Linked DNA regions of Homo sapiens. The protein of the gene in region 3 interacts with the protein of the main gene of each other region in a pairwise test. Each region holds a gene or a part of one and is shown on either strand. Other genes may lie near its edges. The genes, in order: IPO11, DPPA4, EIF4A2 and PDCD4.

Region 1 (7,027 bases), on a different chromosome or scaffold from region 3:
GCCCGGCCCCCTCTTTACTCTTTACTGGATAAAGTTCCCTTCTGCTTCATAGAGGAAATGAAATACATTGAGTGGGAACTTCATTGCTTTCTGTTCTGTTTCACCTGCAAACATGAAGACCTCTATCTGTCCATCTCTAATGATATTCTGAGTTTTTTCTCCTTACGGGCAATATTTCCTTCATGTGTTTGCTAGGGCCGCCACAACAAAATACCTTATATTGGGTAGCTTAAACAAGAGAATTTTTTTTCTCACAGTTCTGGAGAGTGGAAGTCTAAGATCAAGGTGCAGATAAGATTGGTTTCCTGTAAGACCTCCATCCTTGGCTTGCAGATGGCCACCTTCTTGCTGCCTTTTCTCGTGGTCATCCTGTGTGTACATGCACCTCTGCTGTATCTTTCTGTTTTCTTTTTTTTTCTTTTCTTTTTTTTTTTTTTTTTGAGACGGAGCCTCGCTCTTGTCTCCCAGGCTGGAGTGCAGTGGCCCGCTCTCAGGTCACTGCAACCTCCGCCTTCCCGGTTCAAGCGATTCTCCTGCCTCAGCCTCCTGAGTAGTTGGGATTACAGGCGCTCACCACCACGCCCGGCTAATTTTTATATTTTTAGTAGAGACGGGTTTCACCATGTTGTCCAGGCTGGTCTCAAACTCCTGACCTCAGGTGATCTGCCCGCCTCAGCCTCCCAAAGTGCTGGGATTACAGGCGTGAGCCACTGCACTGGCCTGCTGTTTCTTTTTCTTATAATGGCATCAGTTATATTGGTTTAGGGCCTTACCCTAACAACCTCATCTTATCTTAATCACCTTAAAAACTTTATCTCCAAATACTGAGGGTTCGGGGGTTAGGGCTTCAACATGAATTTTTAAGGAACACAGTTCAATCCATAACATTCAGTTACTCCTTTTTCAACTAGTACTAACTTAACAAGGATTTAAGCATACCCAAGTCTCTTATTATCTTTTTTTTTTTTTATTTTTTTTTTTTGAGACAGAGTACTCACTCTGTTTCTCAGGCTTGAGTGCAGTGGTGCTATCTTGGCTCACTGCAACTTCTGCCTCCCAGGCTCAAGCGATCCCTCCACCTCAGCCTCTCTGGTGGCTGGGACCACAGGTGAGGCGCAGGCCACCATGCTTGGCTAATTTTTGAATTTTTTTTTGTAGAGATGGGGTTTTGCCACATTGCCCAGGCTTGTCTCAAACTCCTGGGTTCAAGCGATCCACTGGCCTTGGCCTCCTGAAGTGTATTGGAATTATATGGGTGAGCCACCGTGCCTGGCCTCAAATCAAGTCTTATCTGAAATATACGCTCCTTACCTTAGATTCTTAGATTCCTCTTCAGCTTTATCTATAATTATTTTTCTTAGTTTTTTTTTTTCTCCTTTTTTTAAGAGACAAGGTCTCTTGTTACCTAGGCTGGCCTCAAACTTCAGGGCTCAAGTGATCCTGCCACTTCAATCTCATGAGTAGCTGGTACTACTTGTGTGTGCCACCATGCCCAGCTTATTTCCTTTAAGTTTCTTGAAAGAATTCTCTATATTCATTTTCTTCACCTCCTTATTGGTTAATTTTTTTTTTTTTTTTTTTTTTTTTTGGTATTTTGAAGGCTGACAGTCCATAGCAGTCACTGAATTTGATGTAGTGGTGATCACCATTGATATCTTTGTTGCTAAATCTAATGGAATCTGTTTAATCATTTGCCATTTTAACTACTTGTTCGTTCTTGAAATTTTCTTCTTATACTTCTGGGACACCATATTTTCCTTATTTCCTTCTTAGGTTTTAGCCAGTCTTTTGTTGGTTATTTTTCTCTTTTCTCTGACCACTTTAGATGTTTGACTCTGAGGCACTACCCTGCTCTCTTCTGAAAACCTTCAGATAAAAATCCAAACTACGTAGTTTAGGAAATAAGGACTTCAATGCACACTCTTCATGAATGGTCTCATTTGTGACTTCAACTATTGCCTCTATTTTGATGACTCCCAAATCTGGCTTTTTAGCACAGGTCTCTCTTCAACGCTGACATATGTAGTTGTCTTAAAATACTTGACATTCATGTCAAAAACGTTGTGTATTTCAACCTTCCTGACATTGTTTTCCTCCTATGAGCCATGCAGGCACCAATCAGTTGGAAAAGCCCAAAATCTTAATTCTTTCCCCTTATTAACTTATGTGTAACCCCTCCTCCAACTCTCCAACTATCTAATTATTTTATTTCCAACTCTCCAACTAGCCATTATTTATTTATTTATTTCTGAGACAGAATTTCACTCGTAGCCCAGGCTAAAGTGCAATGGTGCAATCTCGTCTCACCGCAACCTCTGCCTCCCAAGTTCGAGTGATTCTCCTGCTGCAGCTTTCCGAGTAGCTGGGATTACAGGCATGCACTACCATGCCCACGCCTGCCTAGTTTTTTTTTTTTTTTCTTTGAGAGAGAGTTTCACTCTTATTGACCAAGCTGGAGTGCAGTGGCACCATCTCGGCTCACTGCGACCTCCGCCTTCTGGGTTCAAGTGATTCTTCTGCCTCAGCCTCCTGAGTAGCTGGGATTACAGACGTGCGCCACCATGCCTGGCTAATTTTGTATTTTTAGTAGAGTATGTTGGTCAGGCTGATCTCAAACTCCTGACCTCAGGTGATCCACCTGCCTCGGCCTTCTAAAGTATTGGGATTACAGGCATGAGCCACTGCACCCAGCCAACACATATCATATAGTTTAAAATGTAAGTGTTTCCAGTACAGTAAGCTATTAACAGTATAGTGCTATGAACAGCATTCATATAGTTAATAGCATTATGCAGAAAAATTAAGGATATCGGGAACATAGAGATTCTTGGTTGAGGAGTGAGCCCTTTTAGATTGGCAGTTAGTGGAGACCTCTTTAAATAGAGGACAACTTGAGCAGAATGGAATGCTGTCAAAGAGCAAGACATGCTTTTATCTAGAGACCAGAGCTTTCCAGCCAGAGGGAACAAATTGTACAAGGGATAAGATACATTTTATACATATTTCACTAAAGATGTTCACGTATTGTCTCCAAGTCTCTGTTAATATAGATAACTAGGTCATGCAGACAACCTAGTCCTTTGTCTCCTTATTCTTATATGCCTGTGCAGGGGTTTCTGTGATTATAGCACCAGGTGTGAAACTGCTGGGTCATAGAAGATACAGTCACGAGTTGCTTAAGGCTGGGATACATCCTGAGAAATGGGTCGTTAGGCAATTTTGTTGTTCTATGAACATCATATGAACAAACCTAGATGGTACAGCCTATTATACACTTGGGCTATGTGGTATATAGCTTATTGTATCTAGGCTATAAGCCTGTACAGCATGTTACTGCACTGAATACTGTAAGCAGTTGTCACAAAATGGTAAGTATTTGTGTGTTTAAACATGTCTAAACTTAGAAAGGTACTGTAAAAATACAGTGTAGAAGTAAAAAATGGTACATCTGTACAGGGCACTTACCTCGAATGGAGCTTGGAGGACTGGAAATTGGTTTGGATGAATCAGTGAGTGAGTGGTGAGTGAAAGTGAAGGCCTAGGGCATTATTGTACACTTAGGCTAAAATAAATTTATTAAGAAATTTTTTTCTTCAATAATCTTAGCTTATTGTAACTTTTAGTTTATAAACTTTTTGTCTCTGTTGCAGTAACACTTAGCTTAAAACACAAATACATTGTGTAGTTCTACGTTGTTTAAAACAGACGCAAACACACACATTAACTCAGGTACACACAAGGTCAGGATCATCAATATCTCTGTCTTCCACCTCCACATCTTGTCTCACTGGAAGGTCTTCGGGGGCAATAACATTCATGGAGCTGTCATCTTCTATGATAGCAATGACTTCTTCTGAATTATCTCCTGAAGGACCTGTCTGAGGCTGTTTTACAGTTAACTTTTTTTTTTAATAGGAGTAGTACATTGTAAAATTATGATAAGAAGTATAGTAGTGGGGCTTGGTGGCTCACTTCTGTAATCCCAGGGTTTAGGGAAGCTGAGGTGGGAGGATTGCTTGAGGTCTGGGGTTTGAAATCAGCCAGGGCAACATAGCCAGACCCCATCTCTACAAAAAGTAAAAAAATTAGCATGGCATGATGGCTCATCCCTGTAGTCCCAAGTCTCAACTATTCAGGAGGCTGAGGTGGAATGACTGCTTGAGCCCAAGAGTTCAACGTTGTAGTGAATTATGATGCCGGCATTGCTCTCTACCTCAGGTGACAGAGATCGTAACTCTTAAAAAAAGTAGGCTGGGCGTGGTGGCTCACGCCTGTAATCTTAGCACTTCGGGAGGCCAAGGCGGGTGGATCACGGGGTCAGGAGATTGAGACCAGCCTGGCCAACATGGTGATACCCTGTTTCTACTAAAAAAATACAAAAATTAGCCAGGCGTGGTGGCACACACCTGTAATCCCAGCTACTTGGGAGGCTGAGGCAGGAGAATTGCTTGAACCCGGGCGATGGAGGTTTCAGTGAGCCAAGATCGTACCACTGCACTCCAGCCTGGGCAACAAGAGTGAAGCTCCGTCTCAAAAAAAAAAAAAAAAAAAGTATAATGTAGTAAATGCATAAACCAGTAACATAGTTGCTTATTATCACTTTCAAGTGTTATGTACTGTACCTAATTGTATGTGCTCTGCTTTTATACAAATGGCAGTGCAGTAGGTTAGTTTACACCAGCATCACCACTAACGTGTGAGTAATGTGATTTACTACGACTTAGGATGGCTATGATGTCACTATGTGATAGGAATTTTAAAGCTCCATTAAAATCTTACGGGATCACTGTCGTATATATGTGGTCCATATCTGACTGAAACTTTTTTTTTTTTTTTTTGAGACAGGGTCTCACTCTGTCACCCAGGCTGGAGTGCAGTGGCACGATCGTGGCTCACTGCAGCCTTGACCTCCTGGGCTCAGGTGATTCTCCCATCTCAGCCTCCTGAGTAGCTGGGACTACAGGTGTGCCCCACCATGCCCAGCTAACTTTTTGTTTTTTTAGTAGTGATGGGGTTTCTCCATGTTGCCCAGGCTGGTCTTGAACTCCTGCACTCTAAGTGATCCACCCGCCTCAGCCTTCCAAAGTGTTGGATTACAGGCGTGAGCCGCCATTTTTATGTGGTGTGTGACCCTCTGTGTGTCCTGGTCATAGAATACACAAAATATATACTCAATTTCATTAGAGACAGCTAGATAGCTCTCCAAAGTTGTATTAATAGATATTCCCAGTAGCAGTGTTTAAGAGTTTCTGTTTCCATGCATTCTTGCCAGCATTGAATATTTTTGGACTTTGTAATTTTTGCTAGTCTGATCATAAAGTAGTTTTTCACTGTTTGGATTTTAAATCCCTGATAACCAGTGAGATAGCATCTCTTCTGATATTAATTAAACATTTAGCTCTTCTTTTCTATATATTTTCTGCTTACACCCTTTGTTCACTTTTCTTATATATTTGTCTTGTTGATTCACAAGGGTTCCTTGTATATTCTGTATAATACACCTTTGTTTTAGTTATGTATTAATAACATTTCTTCTCTTAATCTTCACCTTGTTAACCTTGTGTAGGGTATCTTCAATGACTCCATCAATTTCAGTCTTCAGTTCTGATGTAGTATAATTCATTAGGCAGATAGGCTGTGAACTTGATGTATTTTTGTTCTTTCTCAAGTCTAAAGCTAAAAATTCCCAGTTAATTTCACTTGAGATATTAATGGACAGCACTGAACAAAAGTAAAAGTGTTTAATCTTTCGGGAGTACTGGGTGGGGACAGGAGACTTACATTTAAAGTTCTAGAAATGTCACTAATGAGCCTGTGACCTTAGAGAAGTCAGTTTATCTCCTTATCTTTTGGCCACAGTGTCTTGGTCAGTAAAACAAAATACTTAAACTGTGTAGAGAACTGATATGGGTGGCTCCAAGGTGATAGGAAAATTATATTTATTTACTTGTTAACTTATATGGACTCACAACTGAGAGAAAAATTATTTTAATGATAAAATGTAGAATAGTGATTAACTGTGGGATTATTACTTGGCATACAGCACATGCATGTTTGAACAAATGGGTTTTTATAAATACAATGACAGGCTGAGCTCTTTATAGCAAGAATGAGATTCTTATAAGATACAGCTTTATAGACAGTGATGTCTTCAACCAGTAAATGGAAACTACCAATCGAAGATGTCTATATTTGGAGAGAGGACTGATGATCTCTTACACTCAGCAAAAAGTTTTGCCTAACTGCTAGTTATAAATTATAGTCTGTTAAATTTAATCTAGGCTGTGTTGTTATCTCTATTCAGTGCCTTAATCAAAATCAGTTTTATAGCTTTTCCTTCCTATTTTTTTTCATATCCAAGAAGGAACTTTATTTATTTATTTTTTGAGATGGAATCTTGCTTGTTGCCCAGGCTGGAGTGCAGTGACACCATCTTGGCTCACTGCAACCTCCACCTCCTGGGTTCAAGCAGTTCTCCTGCCTCAGCCTCCCTAGTAGCTGGGATTATAGGTGCCCACCACCATGCTCAGCTAATTTTTGTGTTTTTAGTAGAAATGGGGTTTCACCATGTTGGCCAGGCTGGTCTCAAACTCCTGACCTCAGGTGATCTGCCTGCCTCGGCCTCCAAAAGTGCTGGGATTACAGGTGTGAGCCACTGCCCAGCCAGAGAAGGACCTTTAAAAGCAATAAGCATAACTGCTGTTCCTTAGTGGGTTTTGTACAGACATGTATTTTTGTTTTTCAGCTAAGGAGACACCAGAGGGTGATGGTTGACAGTAGTTGGTACCTCACAGCTGGGCACTGATCAGGTAGGGGGTGTCAATATTGTTTAGGATAATGTATAACTTTTCTTATTAGGGGGAGATTAGTCACGGGGAACTCTTGTATATACCAAACAGGCAAGAGACTTATTGCAGTTTATCAGTGCCATTTTACTAAAAACTCCCGGTGAGACAGAAATACTCAAGTTTTTCGGACAGGTCTTCCTCTCACAGGTCTGCCTCCCCTGTCTATTGTCTTCTTACAT
Region 2 (7,027 bases), about 77 Mb from region 3:
TGGAATATAGTAAGTGAGTTAAGGGCCTCTTTTTTTTTTTTGAGACAGTCTCATTCTGTCACCCAGGCTGGAGTGCAGTGGTGCAGCCTCTACCTACCTCCCTGGCTCAAGCAATCCTCCTATCTCAGTCTCGAGTAGCTGGACTACACGCACACACCACCATGCTCAGCTAATTTTGTTTCCTTATGTAGAGGCAAGGTTTCACTATGTTGTTGCTCAGGCTGGTATCCAGTTACTGGACTCAAGCAATCCTCTTGCCTAGGCCTCCTATAGCACTCAGACTACAGGCGTGAGCCTACCTAAGCGCTTTTTCCCCTCAAGGCAGAGCTGTTTTCTTCTACTCTTGTTTGTATCTGTCTTTTCATGTGCTTTCAAACTGGCTTCCTCCCTTTTTTTCCATCATTGTTTCCCAGTCTTGTAAATGAAACTGAGTATTAAGATGATACCCAGAGGAGAATCCACACTGCCAGTGGAGTCCAGTAACTGCGTTGGTGCCTTAGAAGTGAGTTATCTTGAGGCAGGTAGTGTATGTGTGGTTTGGACACTAGAGGAATGACTGACCAGCTCCTCTGTTCCCCAGTGGACCTCCACAGAGAAGTCGAGGGAAGAGGATCAGCAGGCTTCTAATCAACCAAATTCAATTGCTTTGCCAGGAACATCAGCAAAGAGAACCAAAGAAAAAATGTCTATCAAAGGCAGTAAAGGTAAGAGGTCTTCAAATTCTCAAATCCCACCTTCTCGGGTCTTAGAAGCCAGAGGAATTTTTCTGAAGAAGAAAAACCAGGGAAGAAATTTCCATCATGTATTGTGCAAATCCTGCACTTCATGGAAGCCAAGCTTAAACTGTTACCTTCCTGAAGCATCTTTTGGTCACCACTGCTCTAACTGATCCCTTCCTATCTTCAGACTTCCACAGCATATTTGGTTCTGCTGATCATTTTTTCCTTCACTTGCTACTTGGAGTTAAGGATTTCAGTGTGCAATGATTTGGGAACAGACAGCTGTAAATTTGAAGATCCATTCTTGAAACCGGACTTCCTATTCTAAAAATAAGTTAGGACAATATCTACCTTTATTAAGCGGTGGGAATGGAGTGTTAAAATTTACATAGAGTAGTTAAGTGAAGCACTTAGACTATGCCTGAGAAGTAATATGTACAGAGTAAACCCTACTATTAGTGTCATTACAGGCTGGTTTTTTTTTTTTTTTTTTTTTTTTTTTTTTGAGACACCAAGACAGGGTGTTGCTCTGTCATCCAGGCTGGAGTGTGGTGGCACCATCTCAGCTCCCTGCAACCTGTGCCTCCCGAGTTCAAGCAATTCTCCTGTCTCAGCCTCCCAAGTTAGCTAGGATTGCAGGCGTGTGCCACCATGCCTGGCTGATTTTTGTATTTTTAGTAGAGACAGGGTTTCACCATATTGGCCAGGCTGATTGCAAACTCTTGGCCTCAAGTGATCGTCTGCCTTGGCCTCCTAAAGTGCTGGGGTTACAGGTGTGAGGCACCATGCCCAGCCTTAGAAATTTTTATGGCACGATCCCGGCCCACTACAACCTCTGCCTCCCGGGTTCAAACAGTTCTCCTGCCTCAGCCTCCCAAGTAGCTGGGATTACAGGCATGTGCCACCACGCCCAGCTAATTTTTTAAGTAGAGACGGCGTTTCACCATGTTGACCATGCTGATCTCCAACTCCTGACCTCAGGTTATCCACCCACCTCGGCCTCCCAAAGTGCTGGGATTACAGTGTGAGCCACTGCGCCCAGCCAGAAATCTTTACTGAATGAAGACAAGGTATGTGAGGTGCAGAAGCGGGATGAACAGAAACACAGCAGAGCTAAGGAAACATACCTGCTATGAAACCAGAGTGCTTCCCTGACCTAGGGTGGGCTGGCAGAATTAAGGGTATTAGTGGTTGCCTGTGTAGCATTGTCAGGTGTTGATTTTGCTCTGGGGGTAGAGGACACCACTGAGTATGATCTCAAGTCTAAGACAGCGGTAATTCCCCTGGGATGGAAGTGCAACCTCCGATGCCACCACCTGGATTCTGTGGATTAAGGAGCTCACAAAGGAGCAAGTGTACCTCAGTAGTGGGGCAATTTAGGAATAAAACTGGGTTTTAGAAGTGGTAAATCCTAGGTTTGAGAGGGATTGGACTATTAACTAAAAGTGATTTTAGGCTGGGCGCGGTGGCTTAGGCCTGTAATCTCAGAACTTTGGGAGGCCTAGGTGGGCAGATCACAAGGTCAGGAGTTCGAGACCAGCTTGGCCAACATGGTGAAACCCCATCTCCACTAAAAATACAAAAAATTAGCCGGGCGTGGTGGTGGGCGTCTGTAATCCCAGCTACTCAGGAGGCTGAGGCAGGAGAATCACTTGAACCCACGAGGCGGAGGTTGCAGGGAGCCAAGATCGCGCCACTGCACTCCAGCCGGGCGACAGAGCAAGATTCTGTCTCAAAAAAGAAAAAAAAAGTGATTTTACTTTTGAAATTCAGAAAAGCTACACAAAGATAATTACTACTCATTTGATTCCATTCTGCTTCAGTGCTCTGCCCTAAGAAAAAGGCAGAGCACACTGACAACCCCAGACCTCAGAAGAAGATACCAATCCCTCCATTACCTTCTAAACTGCCACCTGTTAATCTGATTCACCGGGACATTCTGCGGGCCTGGTGCCAACAATTGAAGCTGAGCTCCAAAGGCCAGGTGAGGTCCCAGGCTGGGGACGGTGCTGCTGGGAGGAAGGGTAGGAACCTTATTTGCCTTACTAACTCAGTTTTCTATTGTCTTAGAAATTGGATGCATATAAGCGCCTGTGTGCCTTTGCCTACCCAAATCAAAAGGTAACTTTTTAAAGGATGGACGTTTCAATGCTTATCCTAATTACCTATTGTAGCCTCAAAAGTGAGTAAAGGAACTGTCTTAGCCTCACCTTGTTCCTCCACCCCTAGTTCTAAGAAAGAACAATATTTCCCATCTCTACTTCTCTTTTTTTTCTTTCTTTCTTTCTTTTTTTTTTTTTTTTTTTTTTTTGAGACAGAGTCTTGCACTGTCACCCAGGCTGGAGTGCAGTGGCACCATCTCGGCTCACTGCAACCTTCACTTCCCGGGTTCAAGCAATTCTCCTGCCTCAGCCTCCAGAGTAGCTCGGATTACAGGCGCCTGCCTCAGGTGATCCACCCACTTCGGCCTCCCAAAGTGCTGGGATTACAGGCGTGAACCACTGTGCCTGGCCAGCAATTTTCTTTTTTTCTATTTTTTTCTTTTCATTTCTTTTCTTTTCTTTTCTTTCTTTTTTTTTTTTTTTTTTTTTTTTGAGACAGAGTCTCCCTCTGTCACTTAGGCTGCAGTTCAGGCTGCAACCTCTGCCTCCCTGGTTCAAGTGATGCCCCTGTCTCAGCCCCTGGAGTAGCTGAGATTACAAGCATGAGCCACCATGCCTGGATAATTTTTGTATTTTTAGTAGAGACGGGATTTCACCATGTTGGCCAGGCTGGTCTCGAACTCCTGACCTCAAGTGTTTCACCCACCTTGGCCTCCCAAAGTGCTGGGATTACAGACCTGAGCCACTGGGTGGCCAACTGAGCAATTTTCAAGAAGACAGTACATTGTTATTAACTATGTATAGTTACCAACTTGTACAATAGATCTCTTGAACCTAGTCCTCCTAAGTGAAACTTTGTATTTGATCAAGAGCTCCTTAGGCCATTTTTGTTAGAATTTTAATCTGTATTTTTATCTTTATTATTTAACCCTTTTTGTAGGATTTTCCTAGCACAGCAAAAGAGGCCAAAATCCGGAAATCATTGCAAAAAAAATTAAAGGTGGAAAAGGGGGAAACGTCCCTGCAAAGTTCTGAGACACATCCTCCTGAAGTGGCTCTTCCTCCTGTGGGGGAGCCGCCTGCCCTGGAAAATTCCACTGCTCTCCTTGAGGGAGTTAATACAGTTGTGGTGACAACTTCTGCCCCAGAGGCTTTGCTGGCCTCCTGGGCGAGAATTTCAGCCAGGGCGAGGACACCAGAGGCAGTGGAATCTCCACAAGAGGCCTCTGGTAAGCGCAACATGAAGAGCTTATTCTGGTCCAATGGGGAAATAAGCTTAGTAGATATTAATCACTGGTACATTTTAGGGTATATCAAAATCCCTTTGAGGGCCGGTGATTCCTGGACCCTGCCCACAGAGTTTCTGGTGCAGGTCTAGGGCAGGACCTGAGCATTTATTTGCATTTCTTTTTTTTTTTTCCTTTTTTTTTTTTTTTTTTTTTTTTTTTTTTTGAGACAGTTTCTCCCTTGTTGCCCAGGCTAGAGTGCAGTGGCGCGATCTCAGCTCACCGCAACCTCCACCTCCCAGGTTCAAGCAATTCTCCTGCCTCAGCCTTCCTGAGTAGCTGGGATTACAGGCATGTGCCACCATGCCCGGCTAATGTTGTCTTTTTAGTAGAGATGGGGTTTCTCCATGTTGGTCAGGCTGGTCTCGAACTCCCGACCTCAGATGATCCTCCCACCTTGGCCTCCCAAAGTGCTGGGATTACAGGCGTGAGCCACCGTACCTGGCAAGAGTTTGCATCTCTAACAGTTTCCCAGGCAGTACTAAGGATGCTGGTCTGGGGACCACAGTTTGAGAACCACTGCTCTAAATTATTGATGGCATCAGAAGGGGATAGCAGTCTGGTTTTCTTTCTTTACCCTTTAAGCAATTTAAATTAAAGGCAAGGTCTAAAATTAATTGCCTGCAACTGAGCCCCAGAATGGCATTAATAAGTTATTTAAAATATTTCCCAGCGTTTTCATTGTAAAATGGGTAATACCTACCTTATATGTTGGAAGAATTACAGAAAGTACAACAAAAGAAGACAAACTGCTTAGCATAATCCAATGTGTGTTAAGAGCTGAGACCCCTGAGCTTATTTCATGAAGCCCTTTCCAGACACTCTGGGTTAGTCTTTCTACCATCTGCCCACCTACAACTATACTACTTCCAACTAGATTTTTAAGTTTTAACAGGAACTGTCTTGTATGCTTTTTGTTTTGTTTTGCTTTTGATATGGAGTCTCGCTCTGTCACCCAGGCTGGAGTGCAGTGGTGCAATCTTGGCTCACTGCAAGCACCGCCTCCCGGGTTCACGCCATTCTCCTGCCTCAGCCTCCTGAGTAGCTGGGACTACAGGCCCCCGCCACCACGCCTGGCTAATTTTTTGTATTTTTAGTAGAAACGGGGTTTCACTGTGTTAGCCAGGATGGTCTCGATCTCCTGACCTCGTGATCCACCCGCCTCGGCCTCCCAAAGTGCTGGGATTACAAGCGTGAGCCACTGCGCCCAGCTTGTATGCTTTTCTAAAGGAGAACAGAATAGAGAAGAGGTTAAGTTAGGATTTCAGGGTTCACATCTTGGAGCTGGTCAATCAAGGGTGATGGGCCATAATGCAGTCTTACATCAGTATGTCATCCTGGTGTGCGGGTACCTGTCTCTTTCCTTTGCCATTGCCAGGTGTCAGGTGGTGTGTGGTCCATGGGAAAAGTCTCCCTGCAGACACAGATGGTTGGGTTCACCTGCAGTTTCATGCTGGTCAAGCCTGGGTTCCAGAAAAGCAAGAAGGGAGAGTGAGTGCACTCTTCTTGCTTCCTGCCTCCAATTTTCCACCCCCGCACCTTGAAGACAATATGTTGTGCCCCAAATGTGTTCACAGGTAATTACCTGATGCTTTTCTACAAACTAAAAGTGGGTGCCGGATTTTCAATTGCAGAAAGTTAAGATATACATTAATCTTAAATAGCCAGGTATTTCAAGCTCAAATTGTCAGTAAAGAGTTTCAAGAAAATTATTACTCAGTTAAGTTTATCCCCAGGAAAAAGAAAGCATTTATGTGTCAGGGTTTAATGCTTCTACCTGGAGACACAGAATTCTGGGAGCAACAAACATTATATAATTACTATATTCAAAGTGTATGCTCTACACAGAAATAATGACTAGCAAAAAACCTCTTCCTTTAAGTAGCCTACAGTCTTAACAGGGATGGTGGGCATGTAAACACCTAGAATAACATGATGAATATCAAAGAAGAGGTTCCTTAAGTTAAGGGAAGAATCGACTAGATGGAAAGGAGAGATCGGTAATTTCTCAGCCTGGGAAACGTAGCAAGACCATCTCCCACAGGAGGAAGTATGTGAATGTGTGATTGGCTTTTCCTTCTTTGGGATATCCTACTTTTTGCTGTGAGTGTTTTGATAATCTCTCTATGCCAAGCAAGTTGAAGAGAACTGAGGAGGTCACTTTGGGTAGTCCTTTAATGACATACTTAGGTTTTTGGGAAAGTGATGAAAAGAGCCCCTCCAAGGCCTCCTGTCCATGGTTGGCACAAGTCAGGGAATATATTACAGAGGCATGATAACTTGGCTGATGATCTTCATTCTTGAATGACAGGATCACAGGCTTGCTACCTATGATCCTAAAGTTGTAAGGGCAATTTCAACAGCATTCCAGCAGCGGGTTTCTTGGCTATTTTTAATATTTCTTCATTCTTTTTAAAAACAAATACTTTATTTGCTTTATAGGAACAAGGTCTTAATAAAAAGCCTCCAATGGGAATAGAATATCAGGAAAAAGGCCACATCTATGGTAATTAATGGCAGAAAAGCTGGAGAGTTGGATTCTGCGGTGCTGCTGACAGGTGAACTCTGGTCCTCTGCACCTGTTTATGGGCCATGCAGACTGGTGGGGTGGCAGATGTTAGCCTAAGACCCCTAGCAGTGCCTGTTGCTTTGTGAGTGGAGATAGAGACTCTTACATTTAAAAATGGAAAAACATTTCACAAATTACCATAAATTGTAGTTAATATGTAGAAAAACTCATTCATACTACTTTTCTAAAATAGACATGACTTCAGCAGCAGCTTTTTTTTGTTGTATTTTGAGACAGTGTCTCACTGTTGCCCAGGCTGGAGTGCAGTGGTGCAATCTCAGTTCAGTGCAATCTCCGCCTCCTGGGTTCAAATGATTCTCCTGCCTCAGCCTCCTGAGTAGCTAGGTACAG
Region 3 (6,990 bases):
CCGTGGTCCTCCTCAGTTTTCTCCATTTTCTTCAACTCTGTTAATATCTTTACCTATCTTGATGCAAATTATTATCATTATTATTTTGAGACATAATCTTTCTCCATCGCCTAGGTTGGAGTGCAGTGGCGGGATCTCAGCTCACTGCAACCTCCGCCTCCCGAATTCAAGCAATTCTCCTGCCTGAGTAGCTGGGATTACAGGTGTGCGCCAACACAACCGGCTAATTTTTGTATTTTATCCCCACCGAGACGGAGTCTTGCTCTGTCGCCCGGGCTAGAGTGCAGTGGCGTGATCTTGGCTCACTGCAACCTCCGCCTCCCAGGTTCAAGCAATTCTCCTGCCTCAGCCTCCTGAGTAGCTGGGATTACAGGAGCACACTACCACATCAGACTGATTTTTGTATTTTTAGTAGAAAGGGAGTTTCACCAGGTTGGCCAGACTGGTCACGAACTCCTGACCTCAAGTGACCCGCCCGCCTCGGCCTCCCAAAGTGTTGGGATTAGGCATGAGCCACCATGCCTAGCCTAATTTTTTTATTTTTAGTAGAGACTGGATTTCTCCGTGTTCGCCAGGCTGGTCTGGAACTCCTAATCTCAATTGTTCGGCTTGCCTCAGCCTCCCAAAGTGCTGGGATCACAGGCGTGAGCCACCATGCCCAACCACAAATGTTTTTTAAGTTATAGTGTAAGAACATGGCAGTAAGTTCAACCCTCCAAATTGCGTCAGGGGTCACAGGCAAGCAGAACCTAGCCTCTAATTTCCTCAGAAACTGTGTAATAAAAAGAGGTTACAGAGATTATCCTGGGTTTGCCAAAAAAGAAAAAAAGGAAAAGAAAAAGAAAAAGAGGTGAGTAGCACCACCATCTCTATCCAGCTCTGGGCAGTGTTTTTTTTTTGTTTTTTTGTTTTTTTTTAAGGTGGAGTCTTACTCTGTCATCCAGGCTGGAATGCAGTGGCGCGATCTCTGTTCACTGCAATCTCCACCTCCCGGGTTCAAGTGATTCTCATGCCTCAGCCTCCTGAGTAGCTGGGACTACAGGTACATGCCACCACACCCAGCTAATTTTTTATATTTTTAGTAGAGATGGGCTTTCACCATGTTAGCAAGGATGGTCTCAATCTGCTGACCTCGTGATCCACCTGGCTTAGCTTCCCAAAGTGCTGGGATTACAGGCGTGAGCCGCCGGGCCTGGCCCAGTTATTTTTAAACACTGAAATTACAGATGTAAGGACAGCATGTACTATATACTTTGTGCTTTATACTTTATTATTACTAAATAACAACATTAATACGTAATAATTAGATCCAAAACACATACCTTAACAAATGTCTATATATCAATAGATTATCTAGACACCGCTTTAAATGTGCAGCTATCACTTAAAATCAACTGATGGGTTCAAAATAATGTAAGAATCTCAAGATGGCATACAAATGCGCCCTGAATGATGAGAGTACATGGTACTTTTTATAGGAAGATGTCACTATCAACACAAAGCATATTTTTTATTATTTATTTATTTTTAGACAGAGTCTTGCTCTGTCACCCAGGCTGGAGTGCAATCTCCGCCTCCCGTGTTCAAGCGATTCTCCTGCCTCAGCCTCCGGAGTAGCTGGGACTACAGGCGCACACCACCACACCCAGCTAATTTTTGTACTTTTAGTAGAGACAGGGTTTCGTCATGTTGGCCAGGATGGTCTTGATCTCCTGACCTCGTGATCTGCCCATCTTGGCATCCCAAAGTGCTGCGATTACAGGCATGAGCCACCGCGCCCGTCTGAAAGCATATTCTTTTAAGGTTTTGTTATTGTTTTTCCATGTAGCACTGACAGATTTGTACTAATTCTTTGCTTCTCTGGTTGCTAGATAGCTTTAGAATTGTCAGCTGAGGCTCTTGAAGAGCAAAACTAAACTACCTTAGTTGGCTTAGATAGGGAAATAATCTGACTTTTAGGATTATTTGCAGTATAAATGATTTCAAACACTAAAGGTTGACAAAGAAGCATTTATAGTTCACTGAGAAGGCTATCTTATTTCAGATTCCAGGTAAGCAGAATCACTTAAATTTAAAAGAGCACGCTCTGTGTTGATATGCAAAACTTTGTTAAAGTATACGTTTTGATCTTTAATTCATTTATTAGTTACAAATGTTATTTACTATTTAGTAAGCACACGCAAATGTGGTAATCACTGCATTTATTAGGAATACACTGTAAGGTTACAGGCAGTGTGGGTGTGGATTTTGACTGTATTTGAAGTTTTCTTACCTTGAAACTTACTTAGCACTTGTAAACCTATACCATAGAGTTTAGCCTTTATTTCCTCTTAAGAGACTTGAAAATCCTACACCATCTAGTGTAGTGCTAATCCTAAAGAAAACAACCAACGATTAAGTGTTAATTGTTGATTGGTATCACCCTATGATCAATTGTTTTCACCCTAAGGCTCAAGTGAAACCAAACGGTTGGTCACTTTTTCGATTTAGTATTTTTTCAATTTCTTAGATCTCAGGATATTTTTAGTAGATTTTGGATGAGACAACAAGGATGTCTGACGACCATCATTCTCAGAAAATATCTGGCATCACCTCAAATCTGGATTTCGAACATTACAGAGGGATGAATGAGGAGCAGTACCACTGGACTGAGGGCCTGGCCCACTTTGCCATCTTGGTATTCTTAATCTTTGTCCTAGTTCCTGGCACGATAAGAATTTTCAAATAAATAAATAATTTTTGTATTAAAAAAGTAGTATTTAGAACCGAATATCTTCTATAATATAGAAAATTGAGTCAGCTTTCCCAGTAATGATTCTTTAAGTTGGCCTTCTGAAATATGAGAAAATGTTACCCTGATAGTCTCGATGATATTTTGCACCATGGGTAGGGTTGTATTTTAAAGTTAAATGACTACATATATTGTTTTTTGTTTTTGTCGAGAGACCTGAGATGGGGCTAATTGAAAACGTCTGGAGCTTAAAGACCCGTGCAGTTTACGCAGCAAGGATATTATTGCTCTGAATTTCAATAAATCAACATTTCACTATATATCGGCAAAGTCTACAGCCTTTAAAAAATGACCAATATAGACGGAATCAAAACCGATGTAGTCCCAAAGCGGCACAGAGCTGTATCTGCCAAAGCGTCCATTTAAATTCGTGCGTTCCAAGGAAAATTACTGCTTAGTTTCTATCCATTTGCAAAAGTTTATGATTTTTTTCAGGCATTCCTCACACCTGTTAGGTTAAAATCAGTAACACTCTTAAAAAGAAAGCGAGAGACCGGAAATGATATGAGAATAGAATTGGCCACTCCAGAGACATCTGCAAATGACACTCCATTTTTCCTTCTCGCGCTGCAAAATGTACCGGTAAACCGGACTTCCCGGGACTCGCTGGGTGGCCGACATTTTCCCTAGCAGGAATTTTACGTTTCCAAGATCTGAATGGATGTTAACGGTCGGGCTAAATGCCAGGCAGGTCTTCATTGTGGAATTAAACAGCGGTGGGAGCAAGCGGAATAACCGAGTTCCCCTCCCGCACCTGAGTGCCGGCAGCGAGCCGCGAGCCGGGACCTGTCACCCGCGGGAAGCCCCGGCCGCCCGACGAACAGCATCTCCGGTTTCCGCCTCCGGCTCCGGCGCGGCTCCCCCGGCCCGCCTCTGCGTCAGGGACGCGGAAACCCCGTAGGAGCAGGGCGGGCGGGGAAAGCGAGGTTTAACTAACTCCGCAGCTATATTCTTCCGCCGCGAGGTAAAGAGTCCCAACCCAACCCCGGGCCCTAGGATTTCCAGCGACCCTGTAATATCGAGAAATTACCACATTTGGGTTTTTCTACCAACTTGCTTAGGATTTTATCCGAGGTAACGACCCCAGGATCACAATTTTGTAGCTGACCGAAGCACGGCGAGAAAATTCCTCCGCAAGAAACGGGTTCCGGCCACGAGCCTATAAAAAACGGGTGGTTGGGCGCCGCTGTCTTTTCAGTCGGGCGCTGAGTGGTTTTTCGGATCATGTCTGGTGGCTCCGCGGATTATAACAGGTATGCAGTCTGTTGGCGGTCGCGGTCTGTAGTGAAGGTCATAGGGCGCCAGGGGAGATGATAGTGGATGGCACGGAGGCAAAAACTCTAAATTAATGGACGTTTTCTTAGGGTACAGCACTCCTGTGCCCTTCCAGAAGCTTCCATGATGGGTAGGGCCCGGATTGTGGGGAGATAGGACGGTGGTGCGAAAGCAGTGGCTAAAGGGCGTTTTTCCTCTCTAAGACATTACGAAACTTCGGCTGCTTTCCTTCCCAGTGTAGAGCACGGGAAACATGGAGTAAAAAGCCGTGGCGCAGTCCGAGTTCGGTACACTGTAACCAGGACCCGAAGCTTTATTTTCGGTCATCCACACGAGTTGGGGGAGGGTCCTAGGCTTTACTTGGGGAAGGGTTGGAGGCAGCGGTCTCCACTCGGCCACGGCGCGGAGGCGACGGGACAGGACCGGTGCCGGTGAACCGTTGGCATCGCCCTCGCCAGGCCGCTCCGCCCGCGTCAATCACCCGGCTTGCGCATTGTTGGGGGCGGAGTTCGGCGCTCCGAGCTCTCGCGAGACGCTCCGCAGTTGAAACGGGATCGCCATGCGCTCGGGCCTGGGGGGCTGCCTTTCCGGGCATCCGCAGGCCCCAACCTTTAGGGAAGGCGCACAGTGTGGATATTCGCCCTGAGGCTGCTGCTTTAGCTTGTGCAGGGGAGGCTAACGTGCTGAGACGGGTTGCAAAGGGCTATGCGCTTAAGGTGCAGTTGAGGTGGCCTGGAAGGGGTGTCTGACTGCAGTATTCTTGTCAGCAGAGAACATGGCGGCCCAGAGGGAATGGACCCCGATGGTGTCATCGAGGTAAGAAACGGTTGTGGATCTTGAAGCTTTGGAAAGGTGAGTGTGTTCATCTCATTTATGCGTGCATTATTTTTTCTAACTTACAGAGCAACTGGAATGAGATTGTTGATAACTTTGATGATATGAATTTAAAGGAGTCTCTCCTTCGTGGCATCTATGCTTACGGTTTTGAGAAGCCTTCCGCTATTCAGCAGAGAGCTATTATTCCCTGTATTAAAGGTAAAAGAAACTGGCATTTTTAGGAAATTGTTCTACATAGACATGAACCATAAAAGGGAAAGTAACCTCTGGGGGACTAGCACCTGTTTGTATTCCTTAAAGTGAAATGATGGCAATCATCTTTCGGGACTGACCTGAAATGAAGAGAATACTCATTGCTGATCACTTGATTATTTGGGCATAATGTTCCAAATGGAATACATGGTGTGAAGTAGAAGTGACAATTTGATGTGGGATCGGTAAATGTGTATCCTACTTTTTTTAGGGTATGATGTGATTGCTCAAGCTCAGTCAGGTACTGGCAAGACAGCCACATTTGCTATTTCCATCCTGCAACAGTTGGAGATTGAGTTCAAGGAGACCCAAGCACTAGTATTGGCCCCCACCAGAGAACTGGCTCAACAGGTATTGATAGTGTAGTTCAAAAAAACTGCTTGCGTGTTGCATAGGTTTCAGGTTTCACAACTGTGAAGAATTTAAAACTTAGTATAAATTGGTCCTACCAGATCCCTCCTTTTAATTGTCCATGCATGCAGGGAGTTTTTGTTGAAAGTTTTAAAAGAACTGGGTATGCAGGTATGGTTTGTAGGGTTGTATACTAATAGATTGAGAATCCGAAGCGCTCTCTTGGATGTACTAGATCTGTCCCCATTTTTTAAGTTTGAATGCAGTTGTGCAACATGAAAACTGCAGTGACATGTTACCATTTGACTGTCTCCGTAGTTCGTGATGCATCTGTTGCATGCTATGTTTTCAAAGCTCACTGCTATATTGGCTTTGAAGTAAACCTTCCTAATAAAGCTGTAGGCTTTATTGAGGTCAGGATTATATAAGGCACAATACCCTCTGGGGGAAAAAAATCATTTGCCCTAGCTGTAATTACAGAACATAAATTTCACTACGTACTCCCTACCTACAGTGAAGAATAATGTAGGAAACGTTATTCTTGGATTGTCTAGCTGATGCGTGGAGCAGCAGCATCCCAAGTTTGACAAGGCATAAGAAAGACATTAAGGGAATTTTACCTTGCAGCAGTTAGGTCGTCTGCATTTTAAGCTTGGAAGTAGTTTTGTGCTGTGCATGCATAAAAGCTGTTGGCAGACCAGATTATATTTGCCTTTATGCTTTAAAAATTAGTCATTGATCCTGGAGTTCTGCGGAATAATAATTAAGGCTTGGGTTTTAGATCCAAAAGGTAATTCTGGCACTTGGAGACTATATGGGAGCCACTTGTCATGCCTGCATTGGTGGAACAAATGTTCGAAATGAAATGCAAAAACTGCAGGCTGAAGCACCACATATTGTTGTTGGTACACCCGGGAGAGTGTTTGATATGTTAAACAGAAGATACCTTTGTAAGTATTGTCTTTAAGAGAGTATTTTTTTTAAAACTGTTAACATAGTTGAAAAGTCAAATTGTATCACTGAGTAGATCTAGAAATGACAGTATGACTTTGTTTCTAACAGCTCCAAAATGGATCAAAATGTTTGTTTTGGATGAAGCAGATGAAATGTTGAGCCGTGGTTTTAAGGATCAAATCTATGAGATTTTCCAAAAACTAAACACAAGTATTCAGGTAAGCATTACTTCACCCCCCTCTTAAAGGTAGAGATGGGGTTTATTTAATGCAGGTACTGTTACAATACAACTGATGTGTTTTGTTGTCGTTCCCCCTGCTTAAAGCACTTGATGCATAACTCTGTCTACCTTCATTCCGTAGTAAGACAGAGACGCTTGGCTTCAGACATTTTCCTTTGGGTATTAATGTGTAAGTTGTGCTACAACATAATTTTCTCTTTTTAAGGTTGTGTTGCTTTCTGCCACAATGCCAACTGATGTGTTGGAAGTGACCAAAAAATTCATGAGAGATCCAATTCGAATTCTGGTG
Region 4 (7,027 bases), on a different chromosome or scaffold from region 3:
TGATAACGTCTAGATCTGAATTTTAATGTTTTCCTAGATCTCACGGTGAGTTCTCTTTAGCTCTTTATTTTGGGTTCTGTAGTAGATTGGTCTGTTTCACTGCTGTTTCTCTAGTACCCGAAATAGTGACTAGTACACTGTAGGCAAATATTTGTTGAATAAGAGTTTTCTGACGATTTCATCACCTTCTGAATGGTGGGAACTTCAATTTATAGCCTAGGTTTCTTGTAAAATGTTTTTGTGATCTGTCAAAAATTAGTTTTGTTAAATGCCTCTGCAATCATGTTTTATATCAAAATGAAACCTGGTTGTCAGATTCTGTTTTGGTCTGATGGCAAGGATATACTTGGTACAAAATAAAAACCTCCAAAAACAGAAATGTTGGTGACATTGTAAAGGTTCTTTAAAAAATAGTGTAGTACATTAGTCCTTAAAACATTTCAGTAAGTTGATGTAGAAAAGCAACTTTGAAAATTGGAATTGTTAAGCTTCTTTTGGTTGTTTTGTATTTAGAAAACAGAATTTTCAGGGCTGTTAATGCTTAAAAGCAGTTAGAATTCTTTTCTATATTTATAACATATTGCTAGTTGTATGGTTTAATGTGTACTTTAATATTTAAAGAGTACTGTATTTGACCTTAAAATATTTGATGGTGGTTACTGTCCTTTTTTGTTAAATAATTTTTCCCTTGTTGAGTTTTCTATGCTAAGCTTTACCGGCCCAGAATGTTTCTTTTTGTCTTAGTCTCAAAGAAATGTCGAATAAAATTTAGAGCTCAGCTGCAATATCATCTCCTTTGAGGTCCTCAATATAGCTATTTTTTTATCTTTATTTGTTTTTGCTTTTATTTTAAAGCATCTGCTTTTTTAGTTTTTAACTTCATAAGCTATTTTAACTTAATGTTTTTGGAAATATTGAAAGAGTGGTCTGAACAAAAACCAGTAGGGGAAGAAAACTGGAAAAAAACTAACACGTTAAATACAATTTTTTTTTAGCTGTTGTTTAACATCGGAACATTTTATTTTAGATTTCAACAAATTGATGAATTTTGTGTTTTTTCTTTCTCAATGCTAAACTTTTTCAGGTGGTGCAGGAGGCAAAGGTGTCTGGGGTACACCTGGACAGGTGTATGATGTGGAGGAGGTGGATGTGAAAGATCCTAACTATGATGATGACCAGGTATCAGTGCTTTGCTTTTTCATAATATTTAAAATGTTTATGAACTTTTTTGACTTCATGTTTGTAGTTTACTCATACATGTGTCAAATCATATGTATAAATGTTTTGGATTAGGAAACCAAGTAAACTGACAGTAATACATGCATAACTTTCACTTGGTTTCTGTAGTGAGTCAAAAATAGCTCTTTAGAAATTCACTTAGGATTATTAAGTTGTCCATTTTTCAGTAAATTCTGTTAATATAGTTTGTTTCTATAGTAATGATAATTGAGAATATCTTCTTTTGAATATTATGAGTTACAGATATTAGATTCCTTTTAAATATTACTGTTTAGAATGGTAACTATATAATACATTTTGTTTTGGGGACATGCGCATCTTTCTTTTAGGGATAATGCTGAAAATGTAAATTTTTAATAGATTGTGAAGTGAATTTTTTATTTTTTTTAATGGAAAAAATTTAAAGTAGAATAGTATAATCTGCTTGTACTCCTCTCTTAGCTTTACAAACTTAAATAATTACAAACTCATAGGCAGTCTTGTTTAATTCCATTTACTCTCCGTCTTCTATTGGCCCCTTTGCCCCACCCTGTTTTGGATTATTTTGAAGCAAATCCCAAATGTTTTGATTATGTTTTTTGAAAATTTGTCTTTGCACAAGGTGAGACACGGTGATGGAAATTTTAGACAGGAAAACGTTAAGAGTATGTGTTAGGTTGTTTTTATTGTGTGTTGTATGTATGTATTTAAGTGTTTTAACTAATAGATATGGAAATATTTCTAAGAGAACATGAAAAATATGAAACTAGTAGGATTCAAGTACTGTAGAATCTTTGCTAAAAATGTATTAATCTTTCAAGTATATGTTTTTAGGCTGAAGCCAGTCACAAGTTGTAAATATAGCAGTCCCCTCTTATCCGTGGTTTCACTTTCCGCAGTTTCAGTTACCCATGGTCCAATGTGGTTTGAAAATATTGAGTGGAAACTTTCAGAAGTAATTCATAAGTTTTAAATTGCATGCCATTCTGAGTAGTGTGATGAGATCTCCTGCTGTCCAGCTTCATCCACCTCATCCTGCCCAGGATGTGAGCCATTCCGTTGTCCAGCGTGTATCCGCAATGTATACACTACTCGTGCATTCGTCACATGGTAGCTGTCTAGGTTATCGGATTGAGAAAACAGTATTTATTGGGTTCGGTACTATCTGTGGTTTAAGGCATCCTCGGACGGGGCTTGGAACATACCCCTTGTAGATAAGGGGGCACTACATTTCAGAGCTTTTTTAGCATGGGGAGAGAGGAATGGTTTGATGATGGATGTTAATTTTCTTTTTGAAATTTCAATTGAACAGTGCTTTTTTCCTTAGAGATTTTTTTTCTGTCACTACAACATTGATCTTTGTGTTATACTTTTTATTATAATAATGCTAATCGTGAAGGCTTTGGTTCCTGCTTCATTTTTTTTTAAAGTGAAATTTTAATTAAAACACCATTTATGATAGGAAGCCATCATGAAACTTTTTGATTACTAAAAGATTGGTTTTGAGAGAGACATAAAAATTTTGAGAGAAAAAATTAACAGAAGACATGGGGGTTGGGAGCAAATTATGTATTTGCTGTGGTTAATGATTCTAATCTATATATTGGCTTATTGTATTCTGATTTTGTAAAAGAGCAGTGACATATAAATTCTACTATTTTTATTATGATTTATTATTATTATTTTTTAGCTTTGTTGTCCAGGCTGGAGTGCAGTGATGAATTATAGCTCACTGCAGCCTCGAACTCTTGGGCTTAAGAGATCCTTCTGCCTCAGCTTCCTGAGTAGCTAGGACTACAGGGGCAAGCTACCATGTCTGGCTAATTTTTAAAACTTTTTTGTAGAGACAGGGTCTTGCTATGTTTCCCAGGCTAGTATTGAACTCCAGGCCTCAAGTGAACCTCCCGCCTTTGCCTCCCAAAGTGTTGGGATTATAGGTATGAGTCTCCTTGCCTGGCCTAGATTCTATTTTTATATGCGATCAATGTATGTAGCATGTCTTTGTCTTGTGCTAAGTGGGGATTATTAACCACTTAGAATATAAAATTGTACAACAATTTCACTTGTTTATTTGCATTTTGTTTTTTATAACTCTTACTCCCTTTTCCCCTCAAAGGAGAACTGTGTTTATGAAACTGTAGTTTTGCCTTTGGATGAAAGGGCATTTGAGAAGACTTTAACACCAATCATACAGGAATATTTTGAGCATGGAGATACTAATGAAGTTGCGGTAGGTTTAAAGTTGCAAGTATAATTTATTTAATATAGGAGAGAAGACATCTTTTATAAGCAAAATACATCTACAATGATCTTGGGTCACTGAATAAATTTAATCATTTTCTTTTGCATAAGTGAATTTCTAAGAAATGGAATAAAATCTCATTACATTAAAACAGTTATATATTTGGGATGTGATGAGAGCTGTGTGCCATTTTGTTCTCTGAAAAATGACACAATATTTTTATAATTTTTATAATTATAATTTGTAATGTATATGAATTTATAAAATCTGTTTTTATAATTTATAAAATATAATTTTAGCAGTTTGAGGGCACTTCTAGACGCCCCCCGAAACCTCTTCAGGGATCTCAGTTAAGAATGCCTGACATAGTTTCATTTTTTTGACATTTATTTCACGTATGTTCAGAAGTAGGATAAAATCTTTTTGTACTTTGTCCAAAAAAAACCCCACAAATAATAAAGATTTGAAAAAGAATATACAGAAGCCATGAGAATAATCATGATTTGTTCATAAAGTAAATCTAGGATAAAATAAAACCATTGGTCTAGTTAGGATTATCAAATTAAAGTAATACAATTGTAACTCTTTAGAAGACTTTGATCATTTAGATTCTTAAAATTTAGACTGGACTTTTATGATTTGTCTGATACTGTGAGGTTTGATATCTTTGGATTTGTAGGATTTGAATATAAGACAAATATTTGTTCAGTGCATACCATCTGGAGGAATTTGTAATAGGTGATTCTTGCCCTTTTGAAGCCCAGTCAAGTGAAAGAAATGATATGTAAACAGATTATTAAAATACGTGAAACGTTCTGTTATAGAGGAAAAGTTTCCATGAGTCCTATGAGGGCAGGGACTGTTGAAATCTTGTTAATCTACCTAGCATAAGATCAATTGTATACTATGTATCTGTTAACTGAGTACTGTTTGGAAAGCATAAAATAGAGAGTAATAGTAGAGATGATTCTCTGCTGTCTGAAGGATGTTGAGGAGTTCGCCAGTTAAGATAGTTTTCCAGGAAAGAGGAGTATTGTGTTTGAGGGTAGTGGATTAGTTGTTAAAGTGCGGTCAAGGAAGATGAAATGCAGTCAGTGAGAAGAGATTACTAACAAGGACACCAGTTACGTGGCTGTGAAAATAGTTTTGGCACTCTCTTAGTAGTATATCATGATTTAAAGATTCTAAGAAAACTTTCATTAAAGAGGAGGGCACTCTAACTGAATTAGAACTTAGCTTCTAGAGTCAGACTGCCTTTATTCCACTTTCAGTTTGGCTACTCCAGCTGTGTGCCCTCTCTCCTTTGAGTATGATAGGTGTGATAATTTAATACTCAAAGGGCTATTTGAGTATTAAATAAGATAATATAACTAAAGAGGCTATTATAATGCCTGATACATTAGTCAATAAGTATTAGCTGCAGCTATTATATTTCTAAAAGGAAATTTTAAATTTACCCCAGAATCTTAAACCAATAATCCCATTTAAAAACAGTTGTTTAAGATCTCATTTTAAACTTGATACAAAAGTGTGAAGTGAATTTTTATTTCAAGAGAAGTCTTTGAAGAAAAGTAGAATATAAATAGCTTATGATAATCTAAAATGAATTTTTCCACAAATTCTCATAAAACAATATTTATAGTAATAATAGATTGTAAGGCAGGTTAGTTAACTCCTAATACCAATCTCAGCAATATTATGTAGTTTAATGAACTAGCCATGAGCTGCATAATGACGTTTCCATGACAGACTGCATATATACCTTTGGTCTCATATAATACTCTTTTTACTGTATCTTTTCTGTGTTTAGATAGGTAACCACTGTGTTAACAGTTGTCTACAGTATTCAGTATAGTAACATACTATACAGGTTTGTAGCCCGGGAGCAATAGGTTATACCATGTAGCCTACATGTAGGCTCTGCCATTTAGGTTTGTGTAAGTACACTCTATAATGATTGCACACTGATGAAATCACCTAAATGGTGAATTTCTCAGAATGTATCTGTGTCGTGACCCATGACAGTATTTTAAAGGTATTTCACATTTTTGAATTTAGCGATGTTAAGGCAGTTAAAGCTTGACAAAGTGGATCAATGTCTGATTTATGCACAGGGAAAGGTGTGTTTATCCTATCTTCTAAAACATGACTGGGTCTTTTGATTATTTCCAAAGAGTGAGACGTAGAGATATATAGATAAAAGCTCAATTTTTCAAAAATAAAATTTTATTGAACTATAGGTAGTGATACACTTTTAAAATGTTTTTAAATTATTTTTTTGAACAGGAAATGTTAAGAGATTTAAATCTTGGTGAAATGAAAAGTGGAGTACCAGTGTTGGCAGTATCCTTAGCATTGGAGGGGAAGGCTAGTCATAGAGAGATGACATCTAAGCTTCTTTCTGACCTTTGTGGGACAGTAATGAGCACAACTGATGTGGAAAAATCATTTGATAAATTGTTGAAAGATCTACCTGAATTAGCACTGGATACTCCTAGAGCACCACAGGTTTGTATGATTCTTCTTTTTGTTCATTCCCTCCCACTACTATATTCCTAATTGTGGAAATAATGTATACTCCTAGGAAATTTTAGTAGATGGAAGGGGATGGCCAACATTTCCTACGACACCGAAATATTCCGCTAGCATTTTGATGTATTTTTTCCTAGTTCTTTTGTTTTTTAAACATGGTCTTCATCATGCTATAAATTTAATGTTATCTTGTACTTTTCCCCTATGATCTGCATAGTTTTTAGGTAATTTTTTTTTTTTTGCCATATATATAGTCTTTGTTATATGTAGTTGTTTTATTAGCTAAGATTTTTAAAAAATGTAGGTTATGATTGAATGCTTCACTAATGTTTATTATAAGAAGTCATAAATAAGACTCTTCCCTTTTGTAGCTTTGAAAATGTGAAATTGTTGCTATTGTCAAAAGTTTTTAATCAAGGTAAAATCACTTTACTTAAAACATTAATTTAGAAATAGAATATAGGCATGTCAGTTCCTAAATGCTGTTTCTGTTAAACTTAATGACAGACAATACTCGGTATGAGATATTAAGTGGTGATTCTAATGCAGACATTTTTTCCTTTTATACCAATACACATACTTTAAGAAAATGATTACATAAGTTTATATTTATTGTAGAATTTTTGAAAAATAAAAGCCAGAAAGAAGAAAGGCCAGCAAAAACTGCTACTGGTGTTAAGTTTTCCATTCTCCTTTCTGTGGGTATATATCAATGTATGGCTTCTATAAATCCTTAATTTTTTAAAATTAAAAAAATGGAATCATACCATTATGCTATTTTATAAACTTGATTTTTCTCATACCATAAAATATGGTAAATATCTTTCCCTGTGGCCACATAGTATACCATTTTATGTGTATACCATTTAACCATACCTTTATTTTTGGACACCAATTTCCAGTTTTTATAATAAGTAATGCTGTGAACATACTTTCAACTATTTCTATACAACTTTTTTTCTCCACAAGATAAATTCCTTTGATTAGTTTTTGAGAGAACCTAGTCCTTTTTTTTTGTTTTGTTTTAAGAAGAGA

What was found.
Region 1: the proteins of EIF4A2 (region 3) and IPO11 interact in binary tests that used the Homo sapiens proteins (3 or more experiments, as listed by UniProt).
Region 2: the proteins of EIF4A2 (region 3) and DPPA4 interact in binary tests that used the Homo sapiens proteins (3 or more experiments, as listed by UniProt).
Region 4: the proteins of EIF4A2 (region 3) and PDCD4 interact in binary tests that used the Homo sapiens proteins (3 or more experiments, as listed by UniProt).

What each region holds. Positions count from the first base shown.
Region 1 is NC_000005.10:62,415,760-62,422,786, forward strand, and holds part of IPO11 (importin-11), read left to right. Parts: intron 1-3,124; exon of another isoform or gene 3,125-3,254; coding exon of another isoform or gene 3,255-3,368; intron 3,369-7,027. UniProt on the Homo sapiens protein: Functions in nuclear protein import as nuclear transport receptor. Serves as receptor for nuclear localization signals (NLS) in cargo substrates.
Region 2 is NC_000003.12:109,327,547-109,334,573, reverse strand, and holds part of DPPA4 (developmental pluripotency-associated protein 4), read left to right. Parts: intron 1-580; coding exon 581-704; intron 705-2,542; coding exon 2,543-2,703; intron 2,704-2,789; coding exon 2,790-2,840; intron 2,841-3,761; coding exon 3,762-4,050; intron 4,051-5,485; coding exon 5,486-5,684; intron 5,685-6,549; coding exon 6,550-6,586; 3' UTR 6,587-7,027. UniProt on the Homo sapiens protein: May be involved in the maintenance of active epigenetic status of target genes. May inhibit differentiation of embryonic cells into a primitive ectoderm lineage.
Region 3 is NC_000003.12:186,779,596-186,786,585, forward strand, and holds the start of EIF4A2 (eukaryotic initiation factor 4A-II), read left to right. Parts: upstream 1-3,981; 5' UTR 3,982-4,015; coding exon 4,016-4,044; intron 4,045-4,836; coding exon 4,837-4,882; intron 4,883-4,968; coding exon 4,969-5,101; intron 5,102-5,200; exon of another isoform or gene 5,201-5,270; intron 5,271-5,366; coding exon 5,367-5,506; intron 5,507-6,287; coding exon 6,288-6,456; intron 6,457-6,568; coding exon 6,569-6,678; intron 6,679-6,727; exon of another isoform or gene 6,728-6,852; intron 6,853-6,906; coding exon 6,907-6,990. UniProt on the Homo sapiens protein: ATP-dependent RNA helicase which is a subunit of the eIF4F complex involved in cap recognition and is required for mRNA binding to ribosome.
Region 4 is NC_000010.11:110,881,919-110,888,945, forward strand, and holds part of PDCD4 (programmed cell death protein 4), read left to right. Parts: intron 1-1,084; coding exon 1,085-1,179; intron 1,180-3,334; coding exon 3,335-3,448; intron 3,449-5,746; coding exon 5,747-5,968; intron 5,969-7,027. UniProt on the Homo sapiens protein: Inhibits translation initiation and cap-dependent translation. May excert its function by hindering the interaction between EIF4A1 and EIF4G. Inhibits the helicase activity of EIF4A. Modulates the activation of JUN kinase.